Regions from separate parts of the Homo sapiens genome. Here region 1 is linked to region 2. Evidence: fine-mapped expression QTL. Tissue or cell type: testis. Region 2 holds a variant in brackets; the other region holds the start of a gene. All regions are shown on one strand. Distances are from middle to middle.

The links.
Region 1: it holds the start of LINC01582, and the variant in region 2 is fine-mapped to the expression of LINC01582 in testis (GTEx, PIP above 0.99).

The regions. Positions count from the first base shown.
Region 1 is chr15:98,087,032-98,089,938 of GRCh38, reverse strand. It overlaps LINC01582 (long intergenic non-protein coding RNA 1582), which reads left to right and starts at 1,186. Exons shown (of 4, transcript NR_120325.1): 1 at 1,186-1,241.
Region 2 is chr15:98,081,877-98,084,783 of GRCh38, reverse strand. LINC01582 (long intergenic non-protein coding RNA 1582) reads left to right here. Exons shown (of 4, transcript NR_120325.1): 3 at 884-950; 4 at 1,335-1,805. Among named protein-coding and RNA genes, the nearest start is that of LINC01582, 5.4 kb to the left of the region's middle. The variant C/T (reference allele first, on the strand shown) is at 1,424.

The DNA of each region.
Region 1 (2,907 bases), 5.2 kb before region 2:
TTAGTCCTGTGTGTCTGTGGCTGACTGCCACAATTACTACTTGAGACCGTCACTATGACAGTTATTACTGTTACTACTTGAGACCGTCACTACGACAGTTATTGTTACTACTTGAGACCGTCATTACAGGACTGAACGAAAGGACAAACGTAGAAATGATTAAAAAAATCTGTTTTAAAGGAAGGGGAAACCGGGAAGAAGGGAGCTCCCTGCTTCTAGTGAGCGAAGGCAGCCCCCCGAGCTTCCACAGCCCTTCGCATTCATTGGGAGAATGAGCAGGGAGGAGGCCCTAAGACTGGTCAGCTGTTTGATTATCACAAGTTCTCATTACTAACAGGCTTCAGTTGTGTCTAATCCTAAACACTTGCACCTGGGTGGTGACTGCCCTCAGCAGTCCTTCTGGGCGGCAGACACAGGTTGTCAGTTTGCCAACACCCTGCTCTCATGAGAAACAGTTTGCTGCTTACTCACGTGGCCTCCAGTGGTATACTGAGTTGATCACGACCCTCAATCTTTCGGCCCCTAAGAGCCGCAGGGGGGTGGGGAGGTGCCAGGCTGCTGAGGCCTTTGGGTTCCTAGGCTGCTGGCATTTTAAAACCACCACTGTATTCCACCTCCCCTTGGATAACACGCAGAAACAGGCCAAGAAGAAATTACCTGCTGTTGGTTATTTCTATTTCAAATGAATACTAGCTGAACATTTACTAAATGACATTGTCAGGTTTCAGCAAAAGCGGCCTGTAATAGTTGGGTGAGGACAGGGAAAGACTTTGAAATGGGCAGAAAAGATTACGGGATGTCCTGCAGGTTCAGTGTGCTTTGGCCTATTTTTCAACTGTCTAAATTTTCGCCGCCAAAGTCGCCAAAACCGCCTTCGCCGCAGCTGCAGCCAAAGCCTCCTCCTCCTCCTCTTCCTTCTCTCTCCTCCCTCACCTCCTCCTTCCTTCTAGGAAGCTTACTGGAGTGAAACTTGAACGTTTTCAAAAAAAAATCATTAACGCAAATGATTCTTGTCCAAAGAAACAGAAATAATAGAAGTGTGAAGGGGCGTGGGAGGGGGTTGAGATGTGCCGCGTTCAGGCCCGGGGCACCGGCGAGGGTGGGCGTGTGAGCGGGGGGTGGGGGCGTTAACGGTGTCTTCTCCCCACAAATGAAAGAGAAATAGTAAATTCTCCTGCGGGTGGCGAATCAGGAGGGAAGGTGGAGCCCACAATCTTTGCAAACTCTCTGGGGAGCCAGGGGTTGGTAGCTGGGAAGACTTGGGTGGTGACCCTGGGGGAGGGGAAGGGGCCGGGGAGCGGGGAATGGGGGCAGCCCCTGGGGAGGAATGGGAGAGGGAGGAGGACGCCAGGGGCACAGGGACAGCCTCCGGGGCGGGGCGCGGCGCCAGCCTAGCCCGAGGATGGAGGCTGAGGCCGCCTGTTGAGTCACAGGTAAGGGGAGCCGCTCTGGCCAGGCCCAGGGCCGCCCTCGTTCCTCCCGGAGCGCAGCGACAGCTCCTCCCCGCGTCTCGGGTTTCAATGGCTGGGCCTGCCCGAAAGCTCTGGGCCCCCGCGTCCCAATTTTTTCTTTATTTTTGAAGGATAATATTGCTGGACATAGAATTCTTTGTTGACATTGGTCAGCTCTTTGAATATGTCATCCAGTATCTTCTGGCCTCCGTGGTTTATGGTGAGAAATCAGCTTACTGAGGATCCTTGAACATGACTTGTCTCTCTCTCGTGCTTTCAAGATTCTCTCAACAGTTTGATTATGATGTGTCTGACTGTGTATCTCTTTGAGTTTACTCTACTTGCAGTTTGTTGAGCTTCTTAGATATGTAGATTGATGTTTTCCATCAAGTTTGGGAAGTTTTGATTCGTTATTTCTTCAAATATTCTTTCTATCCCTTTCTCTGTCTCCCTTCTTTCTGAAGTTCTTCTAATCTACATCTTGCTTTGTTGCTGATGTCCCAAAGGCCTCCAAAGCTGTGTTCATTTTCTTTCTTCTTGTTCTTCAAACTAGATAATATCAATTGACCTATCTTCAAGTTTGCTATACTCTCTTCTGCTTCTTCAAATTTTGTGCTCAGCTCCTATAGTGAAATTTTCATTTTAGTTGTACTTTTTAACTCCAGAATTTCTATAAATTTTTCAAAAATATGTAATTTCGATCCCTTTGTGAATATTTGCATTTGGTGAGACATTGTTTTCATAATTTACTGCAGTTGTTTAGACACACATTCTGTTAGCTCTTGGAGCACATTTAAAATAACCAATTTTAAAGTATTTTCTAGTAAGACTAAAGTCTGTACTTTCTCGGAACCGTTTCTATTAGTTGCTTAATTTCCTATTATAGAGCCATACTTTGTTTCTTTACATGCCTTGTAATTTCTGTTGATGACTACTTAAAATAATACATTGTGACACCTCTTAAAATCATTATCTCCCTCCCCAGAGTATATTGTTGGTGCTGCAATTTTTTAGCTGTTTTGTATATTTAATAATTTTTTTGAACTAATTCTACAAAGTCTGTACTCTTTGTTACTTGTGGCAACTGAAGTCTCTATTTGGTTAGCTTGGTTGTTGAGTAAGGATAGGACAGAGATTTCTGTAAATACCAGAAACCAGTAAATCTCCAAGTCAGGTCAAATACAGACAATCTTGCATGTGGAGTCTTCCAGAGTATTACCAGACAGGTCTGACGAGACAGTTCCGAAAGGACAAATCTTTGGGAATGAGGCTTTAAAAACAGCTTCATTCTGCTCACTCTGGTGGCTCCAGTACCGCTCCAGGAATGTGGGGTGTCATTTTTCAAGGCCACTGCAGGAAAGGAAAGTGAGGCATGAGAGTGAATCAAGGTAAAATGCCACAAAGCTTACTGTTCTTATTGAGAATTGGCTGGTTTTCTTAAATACATGCTTCTTGA
Region 2 (2,907 bases):
CCAGGCTGGAGTGCAATGGCGTGATCTCGGCTCACTGCAATGTCTGCTTCCCAGGTTCAAGTGATTCTCCTGTCTCGGCCTCTCGAGTAGCTGGGATTATAGGCGTGCGCTGCCAAGCCCAACTAATTTTTATTTTTAGTAGAGATGGGGTTTCTGCATGTTGATGAGGCTGGTCTTGAACTCCTGACTTCAGGTGATCCACCCACCTCAGCCTCCCAAAGTGCTGGGATTACAGGTGTGAGCCACTGTGCCCGGCCAGGGATATATTTTTATACCTTTTGGTTAATATTAATATACTTTGGGTTTTCTTCTCCTTTCTTAGCCTGGGAATATCTAAGCCTTTATCCTTTTAATTTTCCTTTTTATCATCTCTGCCCGAGAGGTGAAGAGGAGTACTAAGTAGCCCTCTCTACTTCTCCTCCCAGCAGCTGGCCGCTGGCTCTGCCTCTACCTGGTCCCTTCCAGGATGTACTTCCGAAGTGGTGGAAGTAGGGAAGGCTCTTGAAGGGAGATACCCATGATTCTTAAAATTATGCACCAAGACACAGCACAGAATCAGAATCCGAGAAAGTTGGATTTCTGGCCCATTCTGCCTCTTTCTTTTTAGCTCACTACTTAATTCAAGGGTTATTGCAAGGATTACAAAAGGTAACGTGTGCAAAATGCTCAGTATATGGCCTCGTACATGCTAGGTGCAGAATGCATGTATGAAAATAATGTTTAATAAAATGTGTATTAAACTAATATCTTTTCAGCAGGAGGCCAAATAGGCTTCTTGTCCACCTCAGATTTTTTTTTTTTTCCCTCACTTTTTTAAAAATCAAGGAGGATGTGAGGAACCAGGAATTGAGATTTGGCATTAATCTTCATTCTTGTTGCCTAGGGTTGGCCTTGCGTATTGGCAATGAAACAGGCTATTTTTGACATTGAGTTGTCCAGCATTCTCTAAGGTGAGGCTATGTTGCATGTTGGAAAGATTTAGCGAATAACAGAGGCAGGCTCCACTCGTTTCCCACTGGGAAAGGCAAGAGCAGCCTGCACACAGAGCCCCTCTGAGGGCAAAACTCACACTGCATGCTGCACGTGAAAACTGCAACAGGGAGTTAGAGATGCCCGGGGCAGTTGTGATTTTCACTGTCCATTTATCTGTAATCATTTTTGTAAGGAAGATTGATGGATGCCGGGGGGTGAGGGTGGGCGGAGGAAGTCACTGCTGCATAGTGATGCACAGAAATTGATATTTCATCAGAAGAAAGCTCTTGATAGTTGTTTCCCTGGCAAGCTGGAGATGACGGACAGTCTTTACTAACTGAGTTGTTTATCCTTCCTATCAGGTATGTAGTCCTGGAGGGCGCTGCTTAATGAACCAGAAGTCCTGCCTCTTAAGTACCTCACCAGCTCAAATGTGTGCATGTCACCTTGG[C/T]GTGAATCGGAGCAGGCGCTGGTGGATACCGTTTGGAGGCATGCCAGCAAGGAGCTCCTTGTGTAGCCTGCCTCTGGAGCCTCAAGTTCAACTTCCATAGGGCCAAAAGGGGAGTCGGGCTGGGCAGAAGCTCCTGAGAACCAAAGCAAATGGTCTGAGAGTCTGAGAGTGTAGTGGAGGTAACGTGTTCGTGTCCTCTCTGGCTGCATCACCCCAAGTCCTTGCAGACTCAAGTAGCCTATTTGCAAGTTTAAATAGTTTGAGTCCTGGCCGGTAACAAGAATACTCTACAGTGGCCCAGAGTCAGGGATATAGAGTGGCGACTACTTGGCAGAACTGGAGCTTGCTCAGATGAAAAGATAAATTGTACTGGTTAAACGAAGATCAAGTGCAGGGTCTGGACTTTGTTTCTATCTTTCATGTGGACTCTATAAGCACCTACACACAGCATTCTAGAAACACTGCTCCCATCCCTCCTGTCTCATGTCATCCTCCCAATTCCGGGAGTTGGGGGGCATACTCTTTCCCTGTGTCATGTGAGAAATTCCTTTCTCATGGGAAGCAGGTGGCATTCCTGGACTCTCCTTGGCCTGGCCGTTGGTAAGCACAGGAATTCAAGGTGTCTGAATCTCTTGTCAAAGGTGGGCTGTAAGGCTCCAGAAGAGGAGGACAGAAAGTGCCTGCAGAGCTCCTGCCTGAGGCCTTTGGATGGGCCCTGCTGGCTTGCCGTGTGTGTGTGTGTGTGTGTGTGTGTGTGTGTGTGTGTGTGGTGTCGTGCTTATTTGCCCCAAATGAGGCAAGAGAGCAGTGATCAGGTGTCTCCCCAGCATCTAGTTTCATGAAGACAATAGAAGTGGGTCGGATCAGGCCTGCTGCCATGCTTGGCTTGCCCATGTCTCCTAGGATTGGCTGCCTGGTGGCCATCCCTTTGCCATCCCCTTGACTGCCCTGTGAATGATGTCCACTCTGAGACCCCAGGCCACTCAGAAAAACTGAAGATTCTCAAGTTCAGGTGCAGTTAGGGGGCAGGTCCTGGTGGTGGGGGAGCTTTGATGTTCTGCAGTTGGAGGATCCTCTTTCAGAATAGTAATGCAATTTGTGAATTAATAAAATTAGGTATGCAAGAGGATATGTAGAAAAGAAAAATCACAAGCTACACAATTTTTAAGTTGACAAAACTACGAACATCACAAAATAATATGATATTTTAAATTAATTATCTGCCTGGAATACTCTGTCATTTTTTTTTGATCTTTTGCCTGCATCGTCTTTGATAGCAGTGTTTTTGATATTGCTTTTTATAGAGAGACTCAAGATAATGGAGTCTACTCTGTTGTGGTTAATTAAACATTTTTTGGTGTTATTCATAGTTTGAGATGTTTCTTTTAGCTTCTCAACCTGCTATACAGATAAAAAGCACTTTCATGTCAGGTAAATATTTAGAATTGTTGCCAAATTTTAAATTTCCTCCATCAATTTTCTTT